Regions from separate parts of the Homo sapiens genome. Here region 1 is linked to region 2. The links come from fine-mapping of genetic effects on gene expression. A gene starts in region 2. The other region holds a variant in brackets. All regions are shown on one strand. Distances are between the middles of the regions.

Region 1 (5,384 bases), 120 kb after region 2:
CCCCTGCCCATTCAATGTCCCACATTGTCAGTTTTATCTTTCCTTTTACATTGCCCTGGTTATTAACATTTACATTCTGTTCTGCAGCCACAATCAGATCTTCCCTGCTTTGTCTCCCCAGGTTGACTCTATGACCTGAAACCCAATAAACAGCATTCACATTATCATGGCTATGTAAATATTTTTCAAAATCTAGCCAAGCAGTGAGCCTGGAATACGCTTCCTTCTCTTCAAGTTCAATGTCACAATCTTTGGGCCTCTCAGAGGAGAATGTTTCTAGCATCAAGGTCAAATGGAATCTTTCTTATACTCTTATCAGCTGCTCATAATCATATTACATTTTATTTTGCTTTGTATTTGGCCAAGACTTTCTTGAATAATTACACACACACACACACACACACACACACACACACAGAGTTTCTAAAAGCCTTTCTTTTTTCCTTGAATTATATGCTTTTATTGTATTCACTCATTCAACAAGTATTTTTTGAGTGTCTACTACGTGTCAGGTACTGTTCTAGGAGATTAGGCTAGGCAGTGAAGAAGACAGATAGCAATCCTTGGCCCCCATGGAGCTGATTCTAGTAAGGGAGAGAGAAAAGATAATAAGATAAATCAGTAAAATGTATCCAAATTAAAATGTGTGATAAGTGCTATGGAGAAAAATTTCAGTTTTAAATAGGCTTGTCATAACAATGTGTTGTATATTTCAAAATAGCTAGAAAAGATAAGTTGAAATTTTCCCAACACATAGAAATGATAAATACTCAAGGCAATGGATACCATAAATACCCTGACTTGATTATTACACATTCTATGCATGTAACAAAATATCAGTGTATCCCATAAATTTATACAAATATTATGTATCAATAACAAAAAAGTTAAAAAATAAGTAAATAGGTTGGTCAGGGAAACACTCACTGAAAAGGTAGCATGTGGGCAAAGACTAGCATAAGGTGAGAGAACTAGTCAAGTGGATACTTGGTGAGAAAACATTCCAAGCAGAAAGAACAGTCATTGCAAAGGCCATGGGACAGGATCATGCCTGGCATTTTTTCCCCATGCCTGGCACTTTTGAAGAACACAATGGCCAGAGTTGCTAGAGTGATGGAGGAAGGCAGGAAGGGAAGTAATAGGAAATGGGGTCAGATGGGTAATGAGGGCTTGCCTCACTGACCCCTCTCACATAGGGCCATGTAAGCCACAAGCAGGATCCACAGGAGAGTTTTGAGCAAAAAGGGGACAGGATCTGACTTGGGTTTCAAAAGGATCCCTCTGGTTGTTGTAAAAATATACTGGTGGGAGGCAGAAAAGGGGATGATGAAGGCTGAAGCAGGAGGACCAGTAAGGAGGCTGCTGCAGTTATTGCTTGAATTGGATTCACTGTTTCCTGGCTTCACTGTTTCCTGGATTCACTGTTCTGGGCACCTGTCTGGAGATCCTTCTTCAGGTGTAGGAAATTATTATAACTTCTAATATATCTATTTTTTTGAGACAGGGTCTCACTCTGTCTCCCAAGCTGGAGTACAGTGGCACAATCATGGCTCGCTGTAACCTCGAACTCCTGGGCTCAAGCAATCCTCCCGCCTCTGCTTCCCAAGTAGCTGGGATTTACAGATGAGAGCCATCACGACTGGCTATTTCTTTTTACTTTTTTTTGTAGAGTCAGGGTCTCACTATGTTAGCCAGGCTGATCTCAAACTCCTGGCCTCAAGCGATCCTCCCGCCTCAACCCCCCAAAGTGCTGGGATTACAGATGTGAGCCACCACATCTGGCCTAATATGTTTTCAATAAAGTTTCCTTCATTGTTTTGTTTTCTCTATCTAGAACTCCTATTATTTGAATGTCTAATTTGCTAGATTAATCCATCTCTCTTAAATTTTCTCTCACATTTTCTGTTGCCTTGGCTTTTTTGCCCTACATTCTGGAAGATTTCCTCATTTCCTGGTCCTGGAAAATGTATTATTTCAGTAAC[A/T]TATTTTTAATTTCTAAGGAATCTCTGTTTTCTCTGATTGTTCCTGTTTTATGGCATCTAGTTCTTGTTTTATGCATGTTATATCTTCTTGAATCTTATTCAGAATAGTATCAATTTTTCCCCTGAAGTTCTCTTTTGTTTCCCAGATCCTCAAATTGCTCTAGGGTCAGTTGTTCTATTTGTTTCTTTTAGTATTTTGCTTTCATGCTACAGGCTTCCTTAATTTGCTTGAGGCTCCTTGGCTACTCATTCATATTTAAGAGAAAAGGACTGGGTAGCCGATGGGAGTTTTCTCTGTTGCTGTATAAGCAGAGCTGTTCTCTAGCTAGGACTCTCCCTCGTGAGGAAATCCTGAGAGGAAACTTGGTGCGGACTTGTGCGAGGTGGCAACTGACAGGTTTTGGGACCCACAGATGCCAGAATGAGAAGACTTTGTTGGGATGCCAAATGCCCTAGGACAAATCTGAGTGTTCCTGGGGCAGTTTGTAAAATGTCATCAGAGATTTTGCCCCTGAGAGTAAGTACTGGAGCTGTCTATGCTCCCTGTGTGGATGGGTAGAGGCCGGAGGGCCAGGGTCGGCAGGATTCTGACTGAGGCTGATAGTCCTTGTGCAGACCTTCAAGTACTTTCCTTTTTCTCAGCCCCATTCCTCACCCCCACCCTCCACAGGACCTGCAGATCCTGAGTCCAGAGCACCTCAGCTCCTCCCTTCTCCCTCCACTCAGGTCTCAGAGGACAGGGAGCTTTCCAGACTTTTGATCTCTGTCATGCCTCATCCTGCCCTCCTCCTAGCAGCTATTTACTGATCACTTACCATGTGCCAAGCATTCTAAAAGTACAAACTCACTTAATCTTCATAAGAACTTTATGAAGTAGGTGCTATTACTATTCTTATTTTATAGATGAAGAAACTGAGGCTACAGAGAGGTTAATTAACTTGCTCAGTATTATACAGTCAGTAAGTGGCAGAACTGAGATTCAAACCCATGTGGTCTGGGTCTGGAGCCTGTATTTTGAAACCACTGTGTTATATTCTTTCTCAGTCCTGCCCCAGCCTGTCTTGGCCTCTGGCTATTCTAGAGATTGTAAGTCTTATTATGTCTATGGGACCCCTAAATTGTTATAGGATCCTGAGTAAGTCCCTCCCGGCACTAGGCTAAAGTCAATAATACCAGGGAAGACCAGTATTGGGGGCTTGCCTTGCCAATCCCTCTCTCATCGCCACTACCTTTTTAAGATGATCAGTGCTAAGTGACCTTTCTCTGGCCCCAGTTACTGGGCTCCTGTGGATGTTTATAGGAAAGAAAAACCCCACCCTGAGCCAACACAGCAAACAGACAGACCCAGCACTCTGGTATGTTTAGTTTCCATTCATCTTACAGCTGGATGAGGGGAAAAAAGGAAGCGTAGAACTGGCCCTTCTCCAGGCAAGATGCCAGCCCCAGCTCTTGGACAATCCTGGCTTGTGTGAGCCTCAATGCCACATTCAGAGCCTTCCCCACCCTTCAGGATGGTCCCTCCCTCTCAAGAGAAGGGATACCTGGAGGTTTAAAAGAGCAAGGGTTTGGAGATCGGGCTCAGATCTTCTGGATGTGAACAACAGATCCAGGCCAGAGGTGGCATCATGTCTGGGTGGAGGTACCTCATCTGTGTCAGCTTTTTGCTGACCATTCTTCTTGAACTGACATACCAGGGACCCCCTGTCCCCGCTTCATCAAGCACAAAGGTCAGTTCTGGGATGAGGGAAAAAAGCTTGGGGATTTGTGATAAAATTAGCTTCTTGGGGGAAATTTGGGAAGGTTATTCAGTGTGTTTCTTCAGTCCTATGACTGAGAAACTAGAGCCAGAGAAAAGAGGTACTATTTGCTGAGCACATGTCAGGTGCTGCACCAGGGGTCCCAGAATTATTATTTCATTTAGTCCTCACAGCATCTCTGTGAGCTGGGCTATATTATTATCCCCATTATAGAGAAGAGAAAACAGAGGTTCCAAGGTTAAGACACAGTTAGGAAGTGGCAGAACCGTCTGATCTCAAATCATCCTCATTTCCCACTGCCCCACACTGGGAAGGAACTAGCTCTGCATCACGTGTGGGTAGATAGAGGGACCATTGCCTCAAGAAAGGAGAGGAAGAAGATAGATATTGTACTTGCTGTGTGCCCTCATCATGGATGCCAGATACTTACCATGCTTGCAGTGCATGATTGTGCTTATAAGTGCAACTCTTTACACCTGAGATCCTAAAGAAGAAAAAAATCAGTATTTATCACAGTGCCTTGGACAGAGTAGGATTCAATGAATGGCGGATGCTCTGCTATATTCTAAAGCCTTGCTACTCAAAGTGAAATCTGTGGACTAGCAGCAGCATCATTCCATGGGAGCTTTTTAGAAAGATAAAATCTCAGCCTTCACCCTAGTCTTGCTGAATCAGAATCTTCATTTTAACAAGCTTTCCAGGAGATTCATGTGCACATCAAAGTTAGAGAAGTGCTTGTCCAGAGAGGTCCCTTGATCTCTAATCTTCTGTGAGTCTTGGGTTCTGAGACTTGATAAAGCTTGCTGAAGTAATCAGGCAGATCCACCAAATGGATGACAGAGGTTGTTTTCCCTCTCTAGGCCTTAGTTTATCCACCTGTATACTTTGAGGCCTGTGTAGGAATCTTGGGTTCCCAAAGACTAGCCCATCTAGGCTGAGGACATAGTCTACCTAAAACACCTCCTCCTGTCTTCTCTCTCAGTTGTTAATGACAAGCTATTCTATGCGCTCCACGGTGGTGTCTCGCTATGCCCACACCTTGGTCACCTCTGTCCTGTTTAATCCACATGCTGAAGCCCATGAAGCCATCTTTGACCTGGATCTGCCTCATCTTGCCTTTATCTCCAATTTCACTATGTAAGTCTGCTTCCAAAGTCACCACTTCATTCATTTGTGCATATATTTGTTCGTTCTTGTGCTTATTCTGTCAGCAGAGCATAGTGATTAAGACAATGCACTCTGAGATCAGACTTCTTGAGTCTGAATCCTGGCTCTGCCAGTTTGGGACCCAGGGCAAGTTACTTCATTTCTGGGAGTCTCATTTTACATATCTACAAAATGGGGATAAAATTAGAACCCACTTTCTTTTTTTCTTTCTTTCTTTTTTTTTTTTTTGACATGGAGTCTCGCTCTGTTGCCCAGGCTGGAGTGCAGTGGCACAATCTCAGCTCACTGCAACATCCACCTCCCAGGTTCAAGCGATTCTCCTACTTCAGCCTCCCAAGTAGCTGGGACTACAGGCGCATGCCACCACACCCGGCTAATTTTTTGTACTTTTAGTAGAGACGGGGTTTCACCGTGTTAGCCAGGATGGTCTCAATCTCTGACCTCGTGATCTGCCCACCTCGGCCTCCCAAAGTGCTGG
Region 2 (5,317 bases):
CAATCTGCCTGGTAGCTGCGTCAGTGACATTTAGAGCCTCTATATGCTCAGTGTCAGTATTTATGACCTTAGCAATTGTCTTCCTGGCTTTGGAGGCTTTCTTGGTTCGGATGGAGGCTGCTGTGGTGTGGATACTGGCTGTCTCATTGGTAATTTGGCCTTGGGTGGTAGCTGTATGGGTGGCAGTTGCAGCCAGCGAGACCTCGGTGGCACTAGCTATGGCCTTATTTGCAGCCTTCTTAGCCTTGGAAGCTTTCTTAGGCTTGATAGAGGTTATCAAGGCTTGGGAACTGGCTGACTCATTGGCAATTGGAGCGTGAATATTCTGTGAGATGACTGGTAGCTTTAGGACCTGCAAGGGTGACTTCAGCTGTATAGTGCCACCCTCATGGCCAGTTGGGGATTGGGAGCCTTGGGCTGCCTTGGCAGTAACTCTCTTCATCTTGTTGGCTTTCTTAGGCTGAGCAGTGACTGAAGAAGCCTGAGTATTGGTTACCTCAGTGGTAGGTAAAGCCTGGCTGATCTGGGTAATGACTGGCAGGTTTAAAGCCTGCCAAGTTATTTTGGGCTTGTTGGTGGCAATCTCATTGGCAGCTGGGACTGGAGGGGCAGCAGGTGCAGCCTTAGTAATAGTCTTTATAGGGGCCTTCTTGGTCTTGCTTTTCTTAGGCCGGTTGACAACTGGTGGGTCCATGGCCAGGGAGTCCTTGGTTGCCGCCAACAGGGTATGCATCAGCAGGACACTGTCCTCTTCTGTGGTCTCAGTCTGTATATCTGGAGGGAAGGGAAGCCCCAGGCTCCCCGGGGGAGGCAGAGGGCCCTACACACTTAGGATTACCATCCTCTGGGCCATTTGGCCTCGCTAAAGCCCATCCCTTTCCACAAAGGCCTTCCCTTCCTCTGAGCAGTGGTTAATTAAAATGGGGTAGGGAGCAAGGAAGGAATAGAGTCAGGCAGGTTTTCCTCTCCTCTCCTTCACCATGTAAGGGAGGACTGAGACGAGTTAGGCAGGGAATTATGAAACTACACGGTGGAAGGGGTCTGAAGAGCAGTAAGTGAACTCAGGATGGGGCAGATGGCCTAGAGAGAATGCAGAGAGGCCTCACCTGAAATAGAGGCACCCTATATCCGTAGTCATTTCTCCTATCCATCTTTCTGGGAGGCCGAGTAACAGGTGAGCCTGAGGGGAATGGGCCTGAGTTAGAGAATGAGAGGGAGGGGGAGATTCATCAGACATCTCACCTATCCTGACTTAGGGGAGTCTCATGTAACCTTGGGCCCTAATCCCTTCAACTCCTGGGTTTTCATACCTAAAAAACCCAGGCCATCTGGTTTCCAAGGCCCAGCTCCTTTTGCCTCCGAGAGAGTCAGTTCTACGACCCCACCCCTTTACACGCCCCCTCCGCAACTCGATAGTGCGCATGCGCACCGACTAGAGGCGCCCCCACCCCCCATCTTAGGCCCACCTCTATCCCAAAAGAACCATTCTTCAATGCCCTCCGCGCGCATGCGCCTTGGTAAACCGGACAGTTTCTAACCAGCTCAATCCCACATCTGCCCCCTGCTCTCAGAGCAACAGAACATCTTGGCGCCACCCCGACCCACTCTTTCTAACTGCATCACATCTCGATCCAACCCTTCCCCCAACACTAGCCCCCTCCCTCCGCTCTGCAGTACCACTCCGCACCGCCCCTACCCCAACACCGCCCATCTCTCCTCTGCGGTACTGCCACGCACCGCCCCTTCCCAATACACCCCCCTCCCTCCGCTCTGCAGCATTTCTCTTCATCTTCCCTTCCTTTAATAAGCCCCCTCCCTCCGCTCTGCGGTACGTCTCTGCACCACCCCTTCCCCAACCAACACCACTCCCCCCTCTTTCCACGTCTGCAAGTGTGCAGCTCCGCCCTTTCTGCAACATGAATACCTCACCCCCAAATCCAACTGTATGAACCTTCTGTGTATTCCTGTTCTCAAACCCTACCAGGTCCTGTCTCTTCCCTTTCAAACCGGAACCAACCGGGTCATATCCCCTCCTTTCTCCTGTCTGAGTCTGGTCCTTTCCGTTGCTCAAAAGGGATGCTGCCCACTCTTATCTCTGGGTCCCGATCCCTCCATTCTGTGGCCCAAACGGGGTACTGCCCCCTTTCTCCAGCCTAAACGGAGTCCTGCCGTCTCCTATCTCCCTCCCGAACTGTGTGTATCCTCCTCCCCTCTTGCTACCGTCTGAAGGATTTCTCGATCCTTCCTTTCTGCGGTCCCAACTAGGTCTGCATCCCTCCCTTTCACGGCCCGAACCGAGTCCAGATCGTTACTTTCTGTGGCCCAAAGGGGATTCTGCCTCCTACTTCCTCCCGTGCGAACTGGGTCCAGGCACCGCTAAAGGCGACTTTGATGCGGTTAGGTCCCAAACCTCCAGCAGGTTTTCTTCAAACCTTAGGGGCGTGTGGAGTCAGGCACGTCGAAGCCGCAGCCAGGAAGCCCCCACAGGGTCTTCACTAAAGCCAGGTACCTCAGCTCACCTCGTCTTCTTGAATCCAGAAGGCGTCTGCTCTCTCCAAGCCTCTCCTTGTGTCTGAGCCTATCCCCCTCCCTGGCCGGAAGTGGTCCTGCCTCTTTCCGCCTCCAGAGGGGGGTCTCCGTTCCTGCCTGTCAGTCTCCTCCCCTCCATACCTACTTTCAACTTTCCATTCTCCTCAATGTAGCTCCCTTTTTCTTCTTACTACCCCTATTCAGTTATCACTCCCTCTTATTCTCCATTTGACTTCTCTATTCCCCACTCTGTATCTCCGTTCCTATTTGATTCTCCTGTTTCCCCTAGGAGGAATGTAGTTCTCTGAACTCCCACACCAACCCTTCCTACAGACCCTCTATCCCAACACTATTTACATAGTGTTGTTATACCTTGTGTCTATGTCTCTCTTCCCTAGAGCTGCTCTGGAGCAGGGGACTAGGTCATATTCATTTCTGTTTTTCAAGTGTTACCACATTAAAACATTTAGAGGTTCTAAACACTAAAAGATAGGGTGCCCGTCCATCTTATGCAATTCAGAATAAAAACAGTAATGTATAAAAATCTATGAAAAGTTTTTATTGATCCCACAATGACTATATTGATGTTTTAACAATATCAGTTTGTACTTAGACTGTCTCTTGTGACATGGTGCACTGTGCCCCCATGCAGAAAACAATTCATGACATTTATCTATTCCATCAATCATTCAAAAGAGAGCAAGGATAACTACACATATGTCAAATAAAATAGACTTAAAGTCAAAAACCATAAAAGATCTTAAAGGTCATTATATAATGATAATGAGATAAATTCATCGTGAATATCGAATAATTATAAACATATTTAATATATGCACCCAACATAGAAGCACCTAAATATATAAAACAAATATTAATAGATCTGAAGGGAGAAGTAGACTGCAATACAATAATGGTAGGAGACTTCAAGACCCCATCTTCAACAATTCACAGATCATCCAGACAGAAAATCGATAGGGAAACATTGAACTTGAAATACACTTTAGACAAAAAGGACCTACGGAATATTTTATCCAATAGAATATATAATATTCTCAAGCACACATAGAAAATTCTCCAGGATAGATCATAAGTTAGGCCAAAAACAAGTCTTTTTTATTTTATTTTATTATTATTCTACTTTAAGTTTTAGGGTACATGTGCACAATGTGCAGGTTAGTTACATATGTATACATGTGCCATGCTGGGGTGCTGCACCCATTAACTCGTCATTTAGCATTAGGTATATCTCCTAATGCTATCCCTCCCCCCTCCCCCCACCCCACAACAGTCCCCAGAGTGTGATGTTCCCCTTCCTGTGTCCATGTGTTCTCATTGTTCAATTCCCACCTATGAGTGAGAATATGCGGTGTTTGGTTTTTTGTCCTTGCAGTAGTTTACTGAGAATGATGATTTCCAATTTCATCCATGACCCTACAAAGGACATGAACTCATCATTTTTATGGCTGCATAGTATTCCATGGTGTATATGTGCCACATTTTCTTAATCCAGTCTATCGTTGTTGGACATTCGGGTTGGTTCCAAGTCTCTGCTATTGTGAATAATGCCGCAATAAACATATGTGTGCGTGTGTCTTTATAGCAGCATGATTTATAGTCCTTTGGGTGTATACCCAGTAATAGGATGCCTGGGTCAAATGGTATTTCTAGTTCTAGATCCCTGAGGAATCACCACACTGACTTCCACAATGGTTGAACTAGTTTCCAGTCCCACCAACAGTGTAAAAGTGTTCCTATTTCTCCACATCCTCTCCAGCACCTGTTGTTTCCTGACTTTTTAATGATTGCCACTCTAACTGGTGTGAGATGGTATCTCATTGTGGTTTTGATTTGCCTTTCTCTGACGGCCAGTGATGGTGAGCATTTTTTCATGTGTTTTTTGGCTGCATAAATGTCTTCTTTTGAGAAGTGTCTATTCATGTCCTTCACCTACTTTTTGATGGGGTTGTTTGTTTTTTTCTTGTCAATTTGTTTGAGTTCATTGTAGATTCTGGATGTTAGCCCTTTGTCTGATGAGTAGGTTGCAAAAATTTTCTCCCAGTCTGTAAGTTGCCTGTTCACTCTGATGGTAGTTTCTTTTGCTGTGCAGAAGCTCTTGAGTTAAATTAGATCCCACTTGTCAATTTTGGCTTTTGTTGCCATTGCTTTTGGTGTTTTAGACATGAAGTCCTTGCCCATGCCTATGTCCTGAATGGTAATGCCTAGGTTTTCTTCTAGGGTTTTTATGGTTTTAGGTCTAACGTTTAAGTCTTTCATCCATCTTGAATTAATTTTTGTATAAGGTGTAAGGAAGGGATCCAGTTTCAGCTTTCTACATATGGCTAGCCAGTTTTCCCAGCACCGTTTATTAAATAGGGAATCCTTTCCCCATTGCTTGTTTTTCTCAGGTTTGTCAAAGATCAGATAGTTGTAGATATGCGGCATTATTTCTGAGGGCTCTGTTCTGTTCCATTGATCTGTATCTCTGTTTTGGTACTAGTACCATGCTGTTTTGGTTACTCTAGCCTTGTAGTATAGTTTGAAGTCAGGTAGCGAGATGCCCCCAGCTTTGTTCTTTTGGCTTAGGATTGACTTGGTGATGCGGGCTCTTTTTTGGTTCCATATGAACTTTAAAGTAGTTTTTCCAATTCTGTGAAGAAAGTCATTGGTAGCTTGATGGGGATGACATTGAATCTATAAATTACCTTGGGCAGTATGGCCATTTTCACGATATTGATTCTTCCTAGCCATGAGCATGGAATGTTCTTCCATTTCTTTGTATCCTCTT

Alleles and levels. Alleles are on the strand shown, and positions count from the first base shown. SD is a standard deviation of normalised expression in the study named.
For the expression in adrenal gland of the gene that starts at base 2,574 in region 2, T is the low allele of the variant in region 1 and A is the other (moderate effect, 0.43 SD a copy in GTEx).

What was found. PIP is the estimated chance that this variant, and not a neighbour inherited with it, causes the effect.
Region 1: its variant is fine-mapped to the expression of TRO in adrenal gland (GTEx, PIP 0.97).

The regions. Positions count from the first base shown.
Region 1 is chrX:54,796,434-54,801,817 of GRCh38, reverse strand. It overlaps ITIH6 (inter-alpha-trypsin inhibitor heavy chain family member 6), which reads left to right and starts at 3,563. Exons shown (of 13, transcript NM_198510.3): 1 at 3,563-3,709; 2 at 4,722-4,876. The coding sequence starts at 3,608. The variant A/T (reference allele first, on the strand shown) is at 1,983.
Region 2 is chrX:54,918,081-54,923,397 of GRCh38, reverse strand. TRO (trophinin) reads right to left here and starts at 2,574. Exons shown (of 13, transcript NM_001039705.3): 1 at 2,520-2,574; 2 at 1,107-1,195; 3 at 1-820. The coding sequence starts at 1,151.